2 separate regions of the Homo sapiens genome follow, and region 1 is linked to region 2. The links come from fine-mapping of genetic effects on gene expression. Tissue or cell type: whole blood. Region 2 holds a variant in brackets; the other region holds the start of a gene. All regions are shown on one strand. Distances are between the middles of the regions.

What was found. PIP is the estimated chance that this variant, and not a neighbour inherited with it, causes the effect.
Region 1: it holds the start of TNFRSF9, and the variant in region 2 is fine-mapped to the expression of TNFRSF9 in whole blood (TOPMed, PIP above 0.99).

What each region holds. Positions count from the first base shown.
Region 1 is chr1:7,936,693-7,944,692 of GRCh38, forward strand. TNFRSF9 (TNF receptor superfamily member 9) reads right to left here and starts at 4,147. Exons shown (of 8, transcript NM_001561.6): 1 at 4,092-4,147; 2 at 3,203-3,386; 3 at 2,029-2,136; 4 at 1,501-1,638; 5 at 998-1,064. The coding sequence starts at 3,302. RefSeq lists a silencer at 5,851-5,990.
Region 2 is chr1:7,912,217-7,920,568 of GRCh38, forward strand. TNFRSF9 (TNF receptor superfamily member 9) reads right to left here. Exons shown (of 8, transcript NM_001561.6): 8 at 3,655-8,352. It also overlaps a transcript of UTS2 not described here. Among named protein-coding and RNA genes, the nearest start is that of TNFRSF9, 24 kb to the right of the region's middle. The variant G/C (reference allele first, on the strand shown) is at 3,275.

The DNA of each region.
Region 1 (8,000 bases), 24 kb after region 2:
TAAAAGTAAAATAATAAAAATGATTTTCTAGTAAGAAAATGAAACGGAAAAAGAACAAATACATATAAAATACAACGCCCAAATTTTTATTCTTAGTCAACAGACCACATTACTCTGCCAATTTGCCTTAAAAGTTTCTAAATGTTTACTCTCTAACCCTACACCACTGTCGATGGGGACACAGGACAAGCCATTTGTGGACCAGCACCCATCCACAGACCACAGTGTAAGTTCTGGTTCCACAAAACAACAGTCACATTCTCTCGTATACTATTGGCTTTTTACCACCTGTGATGGCCTTGTGTGCCCAAGTCTGTGCCACATTTTGGAGGGTAACGAGCAATTGTTAGTTTCTTCTGTATCATTCTAGGGGCTGGCATTGAACACATGGAGACAGGCTGATCAATGAGAGAAGATAAGAGGCAGCAAAGGAATGAGAAGGAAACAGAAAAGAGGCAGACAGCGGCAAAGTTCCACTGGCAATTCTTTTCCTTTCTTTTGAGACAGGCTCTCTGCTCTGGAGTGCGATGGTGCGATCATAGCTCATTGCAGCCTCAACCTCCCAGACTCAGGTGATCCTCCTGCCTCATCAGCCTTCCCTATAGCTGGGACCACAGGCATGTGCCATTATGCCTGGCTAATTTTTTGATTTTTTGTAGAGACAGGGTCTCACCCAGGCTGGTTTTGAACTCCTGGGCTCAAGGAGTCCTCCTGTCTCAGCCTCCCAAAGTGCTGGGATTACAGGCGTGAACCACTGCACGTGCCCAGCCTCCACTGGCAATTCTGATCTAGATGTTCCAGGCACTATTTCTGGAGAAAATGCCCACTTTGCCTATTGAGTTGCTACGACCTCACAGTGTTCCCACGCTGCCTATTAGTATGTTACATTCTGTCTACACTTGATGGGTGCAAAAAAGCTTCAATGATAGCATTCCTTATCTTCCAAAAAATTTAACCCAGATTCTTTATTCCATAAACTAAAGGAAATTATACGTACTTTGTCCAGGGTCGACAGATGCCACGTTTCTGATCGTTAAATGTCCCAAAGCAACAGTCTTTACAACCTTGTATTAAAAATGAAAGCAATAATAAAAGGGAAGCATTTTCATCATTTTGTAACTTTTCCTGTGATGAACTTAATATAAGTCATTACCATAATGCAATCTGCACAAATTGTTCAATAATTCTTGAAACAACACCCTAAGATGGCTAGTTTTTATTTTAATTGTACATAAAGTATTGTATATGTCTGGAACATGTGAAGATTAATGGTTCTGGCAATTAACAAATGTTCTGATTTCAAATTATTTCCATTTATGAAGAAATAACGGAAATATTTTATTAATTGAAATATTTTATTAATTAAAATATGATATATCATATACTCCCTTGTTACTTTAAGGTTCTACAAATCTGTTTGTTTATTTTCAAAGGATCAAGATCAAAGCTAAGTTTGTCTATGTCACAAAACTACACTAGATCAAAGAAACGCAAACGTACCTTTTTTTGTCAGTTCTTGACCTTGTTTACAATCCTGTTCACACATGCTGCATCCTGCCCCCAGGCAGTGAAACCCTGGAGTGCAGTCACACTCTGCATTGCTGGTGGAGGAACACTCCTTCCTGGTCCTGAAAACACCTACAAAGTCCCCCCAGCCCCCAACATTTTATTACACTTGACCTCCAAATCCAGGAAGCGAATTTATGCTCTGCAGTAAAAATCATGCTCACTCTACTTATAGTGTTCCCAGTAATTTTAAAGTTTACTTTTAAATCTCCATAAAGACATTTTTACATTTAGGTAAGTAAAAACTTCTCTCTTGTCAAATGAATGTTTCCTCTAATATTTAGAAAGCTCAGTCCACAAATAATTGCTGTCACTGGATATTATTGTCCTAGACCTGCTGGTTGGCAGAAGAATCAGTCTTTGACACTTGAGATTTTCAAAAGAGAGCAGTTAGTAAATGGGAAAGAAAAGCTTATCTTCCCAACTATCTTCTAGAAGAAGAAAATATCTTTGAACTCATACCTTTACACTGCCTGCATATGTCACAGGTCCTTTGTCCACCTGCGCTGGAGAAACTATTTGGAGGACAGGGACTGCAAATCTGATTCCTGTTATTATCACAGAATGTACCTAAGAAAGGCAGACAATAGTGGTACACGTTTGACAATGGGCAATCGTCACCCAAGGCATTCCGAAGTTTACAATAAAATAAGATTATAAAAGAATGATGAGTTTTCTAGATGCCACAGTGGTGGACATTAGTTTGATTGACTTCCTAAAACAATACATTTGCAAGATTATTCTTTGTGTAATCACAGAATTAGAAATAACAAAATACAGGCCAGGTGCAGTGGCTCACGCCTGTAATCACAGCACTTTGGGAGGCCGAAGCGGGCAGATCACCTGAGGTCAGCAGTTCAAGACCAGCTTGGCCAACATGGTGAAATCCTGTCTCTACTAAAAATACAAAAATTAGCCAGGCGCAGTGGTGCACACCTGTAATCCCAGCTACTCGGGAGGCTGAGGCAGGAGAATTGCTTGAACCTGGGAGGCCAAGGTTGCAGTGAGCTGAGATCGTGCCACTGCACTCCAGCCTGGGCGACAGAGTGAGACTGTGTCTCAAAAAAAAAAAAAAAAACATACACACACAAAAAAAACAAAAAAACCAGATATTGTAACAAATAAATCAACAGAAAGAAAATACTTTATCTATTGAATAAAACAAAATGATTATCTTGATTGATGTAGGAGATGAATATGACTGGATCCAGGAGGACATCAATGTCCTACACTAAAATTTAAATGCGACTGACCGTCCCCACTCTGTTAAGCCCTTTACTACGCGCTTACTCGCTGCTATGCCCCCAGTCGGAGCACAAAGCCCTACACACAAAACTAACATTTATTGAAGTCTTGCCTTGTGCCATGCACTGTTCTAAGCCCTTCATTTGATCCTCCCAGCCATCCTATAAAACAGGTTCTCTTATTATCCCCAGATGAGAAAGTCAAGGCACAAGAGGTTGAATGACTTTGCTGTGTTCACACAGCTAGGTTGTAGCATCCAATAAACATTTGTAAATGAATGAATTTTCATTTTCCTTTCCTTAAAAGGGAGCTCGTTAGCCCTGACTACTAGACTAACTGAACCATACTTCCAACAGAGCAGATCAAATGCACATGATAACTGGGTACTCACCAGCTGGGCAGTTACTACAAGGATCCTGCAATGATCTTGTCCTCTCAAAGTTGAGGACCAGCAACAGAGTGGCTACTATGTTGTAACAGCTGTTTCCCATGATGAAATCTGGCACAGGTATGATACTAGCAAAGCTGATTCCAAGAGAATTTTAATCAAATTAGCTGGTCTCACAAATGTCACTCTGCAAAAGATAAACATTTCCAAGGAAAGGTGGTTTCTCCTTTCAAAATTATCTATATTGCAATCATTACTTATACAATTCTATAAGAGGATAACTCAGGGTTTTTCAGGAACAATTAATGATGCAATATTACGGAAAAGTAGCAGATTCATAGAAACCACTAGGACAAGGCAGGCGTGATTAAACACACAGCTTTGTGCCGGTTTGCCAAAGTTTGAGGGTGCATTTTCCATCATGTTCTGCCAAAATGCAGAAATAACAATAGCAAGAACTTTTGGGGACTTTCATAGGTACTTTGCAGTACCAACCAGCAATAATGCCAATTACTTATTGCCCCTGAAATAAACTCCTTACAAAGAGAATCTGTCAGGGGCATCAGACAATTCAGTTCAAGAAGAAGCTATCACATAATCACTCTTCCCCCTTTAGCTGAACACCTAACTACTAACATGTGGAAAGACCTCCCTGTTCAACTCACTAACACATTTTCTTAAACAGAGACATGTTTTGAGATGTGAAGTTTGTATGGTAACAAAACTAAGGAGTGAAAAACTCTTCAGGCTAAGTTATTGATGTTTATTTAAAGGGCTATTGAAGAGAAGTTATTACATATTAGGAGAAAAAGTCTAGAAATGGGCAAAGGGAGCAAAAGTTCCAATCTCACCCCTTCTCAGTGCCCCCACCCACTCCCCCAGATGGACAGACCTTGAGATCTCAGGGCTGCCGGAGAACTTTCCACTCCTTGGTCTTCAGGCTTCTGCAGCTCGAGAGGACTTCAGGTCAAACACAGGAGTGCGGTGACTCAGCCAGGGGCGGGGTCTCATGGGAAATTCCCACCACAGCTCTGTGACAGCCCTATGAAATCATTCATTTCATATCTGCTGACCCCGAAATCCCCTAGAGCCCCCGTCCCTGCCTGATAATGGCACTTCAAATTGCTTCTTGGAAGCAGCTCTCTACTGTCAGGATGTGTCACAGATGACGCTGGGAAAACGATTTTGTCCCTTAAGATAGCTCTCCAGGACAAAGCATTTAGCATGTCCTTAAAACACTGGATTTGAGATTAGAGGAATGAAACCAAATTCAAAACAGTGATCAGCATTTTGCCATATGCGGTCCCCTAACTCCATAGTCACTGTAATGCAATAGCTGCCATTACTTGAGCACAGCCGATGTGCCAGGCATCAGAGATGCACTGCGGTGAATACACACTATCCTCGAAAGAACCCTAGAACTTGGTATGACTGCTGTTGTTACTGGGAGAACACTATGCAAATGAGGAAAGTGGGGCTGCAAGTGGAATTAGAGCGTCAACAGGACAGGGAGCAGGCAGGGTTGGAACCCAGGTCGGCCTGGTCCCTTATCGTGCTCCTCCGGGCATGGGTGACAGAGGGAGGAAGGAGGGAGAAATGGAGGGAAATGGAAACAGGGGAAGCACAGCAGTCACACGGCAAGTCAATGACCAGGACGTGGTTCGGTGAAGCTGAGAGCTAGGAGGGATTTTTAGAAAACCATGATTTCAATTTTTCTTTAAAAAAAAAAAAAGGAGAAAGAGACCAGGCGCGGTGACTCATGCCTGTAATCCCAACACTTGGGAGGCCGAGGTGGATGGATCATCTGAGGTCAGGAGTTTGACACTAGACTGTCCAACATGGCAAAAACCTGTCTCTACTAAAATTACAAAAATTAGCAGGGAATGGTGGCGGTGGACCCCTTTAATCCCAGCTACTGAGGCTGAGGCAGGAGAATCGCTTGAACCTGGGAAGTAGAGGTTGCAGTGAGCCGAGATTGCGCCACTGCACTCCAGCCACAAAAAAAAAAAAAAAAAGAAGAAGAAGAAGAAGAAGAGGAAGAGGAGGGCAGAGAAAGCAGAAGGAAAAAAAAGTACAGTAAGAGGAGAGGAGGAGTATAAGGAGAAAGAAGAGGGAGAAGAGGAGGAGGAGGAGAAAAATAAAGAGAAAAGGAGGAGGAGGAGGAAGAAGAAAAGAACAGAAAGAGAAGGGGAAGAGGAAGAGGAGAAGGAAGAATGAGGAGGAGAAAGAATGAGACGGAAGAATGAGGAGAAGGAAGAGTGAGGAGGAGAAAGAATGAGAAGGAAGAATGAGGAGAAGGAAAAAGGGGTGTTTCTGGAGGAGGAGGAGGAGGAGGAGGAGGAGGAGGAGGCGGCTGCTCCAGGCTGTAGATGAACCTGCCCATCATTGAGCAGCTGGAGAACCTCAGGAAAACCAGGGGAACTGTGGCTGGGGCAGGCGTGGGCTGGGGAAGGACATCGAGAGTAGCTTGGGCCGTCCTCCTGCCCCGCGGTTCCCAGCACGAGCTCTCCCGACAGAAGAGGAAAACGCGGCGCGACTCGGTTGGGGGACAGCGCTGAGATGCGGACAGATGCGGACGTTCTGCCGCCGCCTGCAGGCAGAGGGACTCGGAGATCAGGCCGCAGAAGCAGAAGAAGGCAGACGGGAAGGAGGAGGAAGGAAAGGAGCCTTGTGGCTTCGTGTCCGACCCTCCCGCCCTTGGCCCGCGTGCCTGGAGCCAGCCCCACCGCGCCCGCGTTTCCTCCCGCGGGACTTCCCTTGGCCCTGGGTCTGCAGCGGGTCCTGCCGAGCTTCCTTCCCTCAGGCAGCCTCTCTCTCCCTGGCCACTCTCGGGGGTGAGGGGGGTTACCGGTTCCCAGTGATTTTTATTCCCTTTGCTCTCTCACGCCTCATGTTCCCCATTCTCCTGCCTCAGTTGTGTAATCTTGAGCAAATTTCTCAACCTCCCTAACTCTGTTTTTGCAAGCACATCTTACAGGTGCAGTGACACCATACATCTTCCTCGTGAGTGAGGATTAAATGAGACGATGAGCATGAAATACTTAGCTCAATGCTTGGCACATAGTTCTCAAGAAAGTAGGAATTGCTATGATCAGACTTACTGGTTTGAAATGTTCCTTCCCTGCCTCCCACACTGACCATCAGTAGAGCCACCACAGGGCAAGTCATGACAGAAAAGGAGAAAAACGCATGAGCTGCCTGCAAAATGTGTTCCCAAATACTGACGGTCATCTGAGAGTTATCTTACCTGTGACATCTGTGGGATCCCTCCTTGCCCCACTTTGGCAGAAATTGGCTGAATGTGAGAGTGTCACACCATAAAAATCGGACTGCTGATCCCCTCCTAACACTTTGAAAGTCACCATCTAACCAAGTAATCTCCTTGTTTACATGTGGTACTCTGTTTAACATTGCAGTGTGACATTTAACTGGGCCATATTTCATTTAACTAAATGCTACTCACTAGTCTACGTTTTGGACATTCTGTAGGCAGAGACATTACTTCCTCTGAAAGTGACATATTTAGTTTCCCAGCACAGTAATTAGCTCACTATTTCAGGCTTTTATGCCAGTAACATAAGAGTCTTTACTGAGCTAAAAGAGTCTCAACATTAGTTTTGCCAGCCCACAGTTAAACAAAGTCAACCACTTCAGAATTCTGCTACTGAAGGCTATGCTCAACTTTACTCAGGCGTTTAAAAAATTCATGGCTGGGAACAGTGGCTCACACCTGTAATCTCAGCACTTAGGGAGGCTGAGGCAGGAGGATCGCTTGAGCCCAAGAGTTCAAGATGACCTGGACAAGATGCCCAGACCCTGTCTCTACAAAAAATACAAAAATTAGCTGGGTGTGGTGGCATGTGCCTGTGGTTCTAACTACTTGGGAGGCTGGGATGGGAGGATTGCTTGAGCCTGGGAGGTCGAGGTTGCAGTCAGCCATGTTTGCACCTGTGCACTCCAGCCTGAGCAACAAAACTAGACTGTCTCAAAAAAAAAAAAAAAAAGAATTCATGTTACTGCATGCATTTTTGTGTGGTATAAAATCATCGTAGTAAGCTAAGTCAAATTATATAGTTAACCAGATATACATACTATCTAAGCTAGCCAAAGGTGTAATACTCTTTTGGTATAATTTTCATTTGCTTTATAACATGTATCATATTGCTTTATCCATTGTAGCCCTGTAATCTTTCAAATGCAACAAAAGCTTTTTCTATTCCATAAAACCATCTCAAACTAAATCAGAGATGACCCCGACAAGACAGCAACACTTTAGCAGTATTAATAATATTAATAATATGTTTCATCCATCCTAAGCAGTATTAATAATCTGTTTCATCACATCCTAAGCATCTCATTCTAAACCAAGAAATAGGCCGGGTGCAGTGGCTCATGCCTATAATCCCAGCACTTTGGGAGGCTGAGGTGGGAGGATCACAAGGTCAGGAGATCGAGACCATCCTGGCTAACATGGTGAAACCCCATCTCTACTAAAAATACAAAAAAAAATTAGCAAGGCGTTGTGGCAGGTGCCTGTAGTCCCAGCTACTCTGGAGGCTGAGGCAGGAGAATGGCGTGAACCCGGGACACGGAGCTTGCAGTGAGCCCAGATCGTGCCACTGCACTCCAGCCTGGGCGACAGGGCGAGACTCCATCTCAAAAAAATAAATAAATAAATAAAATAAAAAAAAAATAAATAAATAAATAAACCAAGAAATAGATTTTATTTCATTTTGATTGACTATAGGTCTAATCTTGAATATCTCAAGCAGCTAAATACTTTGAGGCTAAATAGCATGAA
Region 2 (8,352 bases):
AGCCATTTGCTAACTAGAAGTCACACAGGTACTCTGAGATTCCTGAAAACCAGCACCTTCTTAATGTTGGGACTTTTGGAGCTCACCTGCCTCCACCAACCAGGGCTCAGCTGTATCGACTAATGAGGACTCAGCGGCATAAACCAATCAAAACTAAGCAAGTTTCAGTCTTTCATTTGCATAAACAGACCTGATTGGGAACCTGGGCAGGAACTTTATAACACGCAAATCCCCCTTTTCTTGTTGTTTTTCTTTGAGATGAAATCTCACTCTGTTGCCCATGCTGGAGTGCAGTGTCATGATCTCAGCTCACTACAACCTCCACCTCCCAGGTTCAAGTGATTCTTCTGCCTCAACCTCCTGAGTAGTTGGGACTACAGGTGTGTGTCACCATGCCCGGCTAACTTTTTTATATTTTTAGTAGAGACGGTGTTTCACCATGTTGGCCAGGCTAGTCTCGAACTCCCAACTTCCGGTGATCCCTCTGGCTCTGCCTGTGACCTCATGTGCCCTCCACTGGGGCCCCCACAGAGTCCAGAGCTGTCCCTGGAACAGCTCTCCTCCCTCCCCAAGCTCCATCCCAGGACTTCTCACTCTGCCCTGCCAGGAGCCAGCAGTCCCCTCTGCAGTATTCCTGTCTCCATTCACTTGTAACCACGTACCCCCATTTTTCTAAGAAATCGTTTATTTTTTTTTTCTCTCTCTCTCTCCTTTTCTCATTCCCCTGGTTCCCCACTTCCTACTTTGCCCTTTAAAATGCAAGTATAGCTTTTTCTTTTTTTTTTTTTTTGTTTTTATAGAGGGCAAGTTCCTCTAACTCTGTGCTCCAAGACTCTCCTCAAGAGCTAATAGTCGATTTACAAACCAAAGCATGCATGCCTGCTACGGAACTCCCACCCTCCAGGAGGTTGCCTCGGAACTCCCTCCCACCAAGAGACGTGAGAGATATGGGACTCTGTCCTACCTGGGGAGTTTTCGGCCTAGTCCTGCCCATGAAGGCACCGGCAGTCTCTAGCTCAGCCGCCCAGTAGATAAAGCACTAGATCTAGCCTGCAGACCACGCCCGGCCCTGCTCACTTCCTCCCCTGCCTTTTCAACGTGCCGTCTTTCTGCTCCAAAGGTGAAGCGGGACACTTAAGATAGGACACCTGTATTTCTTCCCCTAAGCTAGCTTTGGGATAAATCACTGTCTTCATACCACACCTCGCTCTTGTTAATCGGAGTCTGCAAGTGAGTGACTAACCCGCGTTTCAGTTACACCCTCCCTGCAGTCAGGGAGCACTTTCTAAAAGGCAAATCCAATCAAATCTCTTCACTGGCTTCCTAGTGACCACATGTTAAAATCAAAGCTGCTTTTTTTTTGTTTTTTTTTTGTTGTTGTTTAAGAGACAGAATCTCACTATGTTGCCCAGGCTGGTTTTGAACTCCAGACCTCAAGGGATCCTGCTACTTTGGCTTCCCAAAATGCTGGGATTACAGGGTGAGCCACTGCTTCTAACTAAAATCCGAGGGTTTTTTTTTTTGTTTGTTTTTCTTTTTTTTTCTGGAGTGCAGTGGCGCGATCTCGGCTCACTACAAGCTCCGCCTCCCGGGTTAACTCCGTTCTCCTGCCTCAGCCTCCCGAATAGCTGGGGCTACAGGCCTCCGCCACGACGCCCGGCTCATTTTTTGTATTTTTTAGTAGAGACGGGGTTTCACCGTCTTAGCCAGGATGGTCTCTATCTCCTGACCTTGTGATCCGCCCGCCTCGGCCTCCCCAAGTGCTGGGATTACAGGTGTGAGCCACTGCACCCGGCCAAAATCTGAGTTTCTTATATAACTTATAAAATCTGGCTCTCTGGTCCCTGCTCACCCTGTGGCTTCCTTCCCCTCTCCTCAATCCCAGCCCCAACTCTCCCTCCCATGTGCCTGGGCCCATGGCTCCTTCTGAGAAGCACACTGCCTGGACAGGCATCGCTTCCTCTGCATCCCGCTTTCCCTCCCTTCCCTCTCCCCCCTCCCCCCTCCCTCCCCCGCCCCCTTCCCTCCCCCTTCCCCCTCCCCGTCCCCCAACTCCATCCCTCCCTCCCCTGCCTCCCAGCGGAGCTCCCTGGTGCACAGCTGCCCCTTCCCCACATCCCCCCCACCCGCCACCGTGAGCACCAGGAGGGCAGCTGCTCTCACTCCCCTTTTGCCGTCCATCCATGGTGCTTGGTGCCTGGTGGCGTTGTGTTGAATGAAGATTCCTCTTAGAGAAAGCATCTTGTACCCCAATGTGGATCTTAACACGTTGGACATGTCATTCCCCTCGAATGAAAGTTCCCAGGCAGGAAGTGAGTTTTACCTTATCATGTGGATGTGTGGATCTTATCAGGTTAGACATGTCATTCCCCTAGAATGAAAGTTCCAGGTGGGAAGTGAGTTTTATCCTTGTGCTTGTGTCCTGATGTGGTTCCTGGTGCAGAGTAGACACCTGGATGGCTGCTAGTTCAGTGAAGGAGTCATTTGGATCCAATAGTCAGCATCTTCAATGAATGTGTCAGAATCTGCCTCTTCAATGAATTTGGAAAAGTTGTTTGAAAGGCTTCAATGGCTTAGTGAATTTTAAATACAGCTATCTGAATCAATATTGATGTAACAACAGTTTTTTCTTTTTTTTGAGACAAGGTCTCACTTTGTCATCCAGGTTGAAGGGCAGTGGTGCATTCATGGCTTACTGCAGCCTCGACCTCCTGGGCTCAAATGATCCTCCCACCTCAGCCCCCCAAGTAGCTGGAACTACAGGCATGCACCACCATGCCTAGCTAATTTTTTGTATTTTTGGTAGAGATGGGGTTTTACCATGTTGCCCAAGCTGGGAAAACAGCATTTTTTTTTTTTTTTTTTTTTTTTTCCTGAGACAGAGTCTCACTCTGTCTCTCGGGCTGGAGTGCAGTGGTGTGATCTCAGCTCACTGCCACCTCCACCTCCCAGGCTTAAGTGATTCTTGTGCCTCAACCTCCCGAGTAGCTGGTATTACAGGCGTGTGCCACCATGCCTGGCTAATTTTTGTATTTTTAGTAGAGATGAGGTTTCACTATGTTGGCCAGGCTGGTCTTGAACTCTTGGCCTCATGTGATCCACCCGCCTCAGCCTCCCAAAGTGCTGGGATTACAGGTGTGAGCCACTGTGACTGGCCAAAAACAGCATTCTTCTTTTTTTTTTTTTTTTGAGACAGAGTCTCGCTCTGTCGCCCAGACTGGAGTGCAGTGGTGGGATCTTGGCTCACTGCAACCTCCGTCTCCCAAGTTCAAGT[G/C]ATTTTCCTGCCTCAGCCTCCCAAGTAGCTGGGATTACAGGTGCATGCCACCACGCCCGGCTAATTTTTGTATTATTTAGTAGAGGCAGGGTTTCACCATATTGGTCAGGCTGGTCTTGAACTCCTGACCTCTGGTGATCCACCCCCCTTGGCCTCCCCAAGTGCTGGGATTACAGGTGTGAGCCACTGCACCCGATCAACAGCATCCATTTTTATGTAACTAATAAGTCAATTGTTGAAAGCAAAAGGAATCTCATACTGGAAATCTTTAGCATCCTTCGGCACTAAAAGCCAAAGTTTACAAAGAATGGCACCTTATTTCATGATTACCCTTTATGATATGATGTTGCAACAGTTATAAAAAGCTTTTTAAAATAAGGTCTTTTTTTCTTATTCTTTTTTTCCTGTGAACATCATAGTTTTGTGTTTTATTAGATAGTCTTTTAAATAAAAACGTTGATAAAGATCACTCTCCAAGTCCTACCACACACAGGGCACATGTAACCTGCCCTAGCTGCGGTGGGCACCTCTCACCCACAGATGGAAACATCTTCCTGTGGGGGAAGATGCCCACTTTATAGTCATCCGCCCCTCACATCAAAACTTTCCGTCAGAGTGATATCTTCCACTAAAGAAAAAAAATTAAAACTTTCTTCTGAAAAAAACCTGAGCTTGTTTTTAGCATTTAGAAAATGATTTATAATTTGTGTATCCCTAAATGTGCTAATTTATTTTTAATCATAGAAATTTACATTTATTTCTATTAAACCTAATTATGGAACTTTCTAAATTAAACCCAGAAGGGGATCATTTTATTCTGTCTCAATGTTCCTTCCTTATTAATTGTCATTTAGGGGGAGCAATGACTCACATGCCAAGTTCCTGTGTTTTTCATTTATAGCTTTTGCACATGATACCAGAATAGGCTATGATAAAAATATCACAGTCTGTATCATAAACATAGCCTCCTTTCTTCACAGAATAAACTGTGGATTTTCGGTGTGTAACCTAGGACACATGAGAGCCTCGCTCCATTATCTTGGATACCCCAACCCTGTGGGGCATGACCAGTCTCTTTCTGTTTGTGGATAGTCAGCAGTAGGTAATTAAACACCATGTGTCCAAAGCCAAGAGGAGAAATCACTTTAGAACTTACAGCATCATGATTCAGAAAGACAAAAATATTCGCACCTAGCTTTGTTCCTGAAATGGCACCAGTATACTTCCTAAGCTTTGCTTTGCCTACTATTTGGCAAGAATTGTACAGCCAATAATTGTTCTCTTATTCTTATTGGAACACCAGATGACTCAATTCTGTAAAATTATCAACTCTCCCTAAATTGACCTGTAGATTTAATGAAATTCCAATCCAAATCTTTTCAAATTCAGCTTCTAAAATTTATATTGAATAATAAAGAACCAAGAATAACCAAGACATCTCTTTTCTTTTTTTTCCTGAGACAGAGTTTCGCTCTGTCACCCAGGCTGGAGTGCAATGGTACGATCTCGGCTCACTGCAACCTCCGCCCCCCGGGTTCAAGCAATTCTCCGGCCTCAGCCTCCCAAATAGCTGGGATTACAGGCACATGCCACCATGCCTGACTAATTTTTGTATTTTTTAGTAGAGATGGGGTTTCACCATGTTGGCCAGGCTGTCTCAAAACTCCTGACCTCAGGTGATCCATCCGCGTCGGCCTCCCAAAGTGCTGGGATTACAGGCGTGAGCCACCGTGCCTGACCTAGCTAAGACACTTCTGAAGTAGAAAAAGAAGGTGGAGGGAGATGTCCTACCGGATATCGAGAGCTGTTACAAAGCTATTGTAATAAACACAGTGTGATACTGGCACAGGATAGACAAATTGACAATGGAACAGAACAGGGAGCCCAGAAGCAGACCCATGGCCCTATGGAAACTTGATGGATGGTAGGTGAGATTGCAGACCCGCAGGAGAAAGACGACGTATTGAATACATGGCGCAGGGACCAGTGGTTACCTACATGCAAGACATGGAATTGGATCACTACCTCCCAACAGGCACAAAAGCCAGTTCCTGATACATTAGACTTCAAGATGAAAGACAAAACTTAAAACTTTTGGAATAAAATGTGGGCAAACCTCTTTATAGTATTGGGCAGAAAAGGATTTCTTTAGCCAGGCAAGAAAAAATGTTAACCATATGAGAAAACAGTTATAAATTTAACCAAATCAAATGAAGAACTTTTTGCTTATTACCAGAAAGACAAAGAAAGACACCATTAATTAGAGAAAAACAGGAGGGGCGCGGTGGCTCATGTCTGCAATTCCAGCACTTTGGAAGGCTGAGGTGGGAGGATCACTTGAGCTCAGGAGTTCAAGACCAGCCTGGGCAACATAATGAAACCTCAGAAACCTCACCTCTGCTAAAAATAAAAATAAAAAAGAATTTTATAAAAAATTTTAAAAAGGGAAAAATAAATTACAAAGGATATATATATATATATATATAGATATAGATAGATAGATAGATAGATAGGCAGAATTTCACTCTTGTCACCCAGTCTGGAGTGCAATGGCACAATCTTGGCTCGCTGCAACCTCTGCCTCCTGGGTTCAAGCGATTCTTCTGCCACAGCCTCTGGAGCAGCTGGGGTTACAGGCACCCGCCACCATACCCAGCTAAGTTTTGTACATGTTTAGTAGAGATGGGGTTTCACTGTGTTGGCCAGGCTGATCTTGAACTCTTGACCTCAGATGATCCACCCACCTCAGCCCCGCAAAGTGCTGGGATTACAGGTGTGAGCTACCGTGCCTGGCCACAAAGAAGATATTTTTTAACACATATAACTGACCAAAGATTATTATCTAGAATACATAAAGACCTTTTAGGAATCAGGACAAACAACCACATTTGGGTTTGTTTGTTTCTGAGAAAAGGTTTTTCTCTGTTGCCCAGGCTGAAGTGTAGTGATGCGGTCCCAGCTCACTGCAACCTCTGCCTCCCAGGCTCAAAGCGAACCTACTGAGTAGCTGGGACTTCAGGTGCACACCACCACACCCGGCTAATTTTTGTATTTTTTGTAAAGACAGGGTTTCGCCATGTTGCCAAGGCTGGTCTCGAACTCCTGGGCTCAAGCGATCTGCCCACCTTGGCCTCCCAAAGAGCTGGGACTACAGGCATGAGCCACTGCACCCGGCCCCAAGTTTTTTTGCAAATGGGCAAAAAAGCATGAGCAAGCATTTTATTTAAAAAAATAAACACAAATGGTATATAAATATTTGACAAGGTGCTCATCAGTAACCAAGCAAATGCAAACTAAGACCACAGTGAGATCTCATTCTATACCCACTGGCTTGGCAAAATTAAGGGCACCTGATAGTACCAGAGGGTAGCAAGGATGTGGATCAATGGGATACTTACATGACACTTATATGACTGACGGGAGTACATTAGAACAGCCACTTTGAAAAGCAATTTGGTACTGCAGTAGACTATTGTTCAGAAATATCTTCTCCTCACCCCTATTTACAGAATATACTTTTCTGCCCTATTGATGCCTGGCTTGGCTGCAGGATTTGCTCTAAAGGTTATAGTAGAACCAACTAAATAGGAGCAGAAGTGACAGATACCCATTTGCCATGCGATGGCCAATGTTCCAAATAGAAGCTGCTCCCTCCACCTAAATCCCAGAGTAAAATAACATGGGACAGAGGCACGCAAGCTTGCAATAGGCATGTCATACAAAAGTGTAAGAAATGGCCAGGCATGGTGGCTCATGCCTGTAATCCCAGCACTTTGGGAGGCAGAGGTGGGCAGATCACCTGAGGTCAGGAGTTTGAGACCAGCCTGGACAACATGGTGAAACCCCGTCTCTACTAAAAATATAAAAATTAGCCAGGCGTGGTGGCACATACCTGTAGTCCCAGCTACTTAGGAGGCTGAGGCAGGGAGATCACTTGAAACTGGGAGGCGGTGATCCAAGATTGTACCACTGTACTCCAGCCTGGGAGACAGAGTGAGACACTGTCTCAAAAAAAAATAAAATGAATAAAATTTAAAAAGCTATCCTTAGATCATAAGCCAAACAATGGCAGGCATGCCAGGTTTGCACCTGTAATCCCAGCTACTTGGGAGACTGAGGCGGGTGGATCACTTGAGCCCAGGAGTTTAAGGCTAAAGTGTGCTATGATTGTGCCTGTGAATAGCCACTCCATTCCAGCCTGGGCAACAGAGCAAGACTGTCTCAAGCAAACCAACAGACAAACAAAGGCAAATGGTGCACCAGGTTTGGCCATGGGAGTTTGGCGGCCCCCACTCTAGTGCTGTGGTAGGACAATGAGCTCACAGGTGTTAATTTTCTCACTGTACTTCATACCTATCATATGCAGTTCATTTATTGGCTTTGGTATAAAATATTATGTTAAAAGTTAAGAATTTTTAGAATGTAACCTGGCTTAAAAGGGAGCAGGACAAAGGCAGAAGGTGTGAGGATGGAGAAGACCATAGGATATACAGACACTTGAACTCTTTCCAAAACTTCCTCCAGGCCTGAGGTTTTTTGTCCTTGACCCTAAACTCAGGCACTCTGCTCATACTCCCCCCTGACGGTGGAGCATGTCGTGTTACATGACAGAACCCACGGAAACTTTAGTCGGGTACTTACTGCACCTCGTGGCTTATTGTCATATGTCATATTAGCACCAAAAAACAAACCTGCATTGATTTTGATTATAATTATAGTTGGACCACTGGACTATGTAATTGAATTTAAACTATAATTTTCTTTGGATTTCAAAAAAACTAGCTCAAACCTGTTAAGTGGTATCTAGAAAATGCTTTTTTTTTTTTTTTTTTATCACCAGCTCTGTCCTCATCTGTCTGTTCTGTTAAAAGTGGTGCATTATTTTGGCCGGGCCTGGCAGTTCATGTCTGTAATCCCAGCACTTTGGGAGGCCAAAGTGAACCTAGGAGTTTGAGACCAGCCTGTACAACATGGTGAAATGCCATCTTTACCAAACAAAAAACAAAAAAGTTAGTCAGGTGTGGTGGCCCTTCCTTGTAGTTCCAGCTACTCAGGAGACTGAGGCAGGAGGATCACTT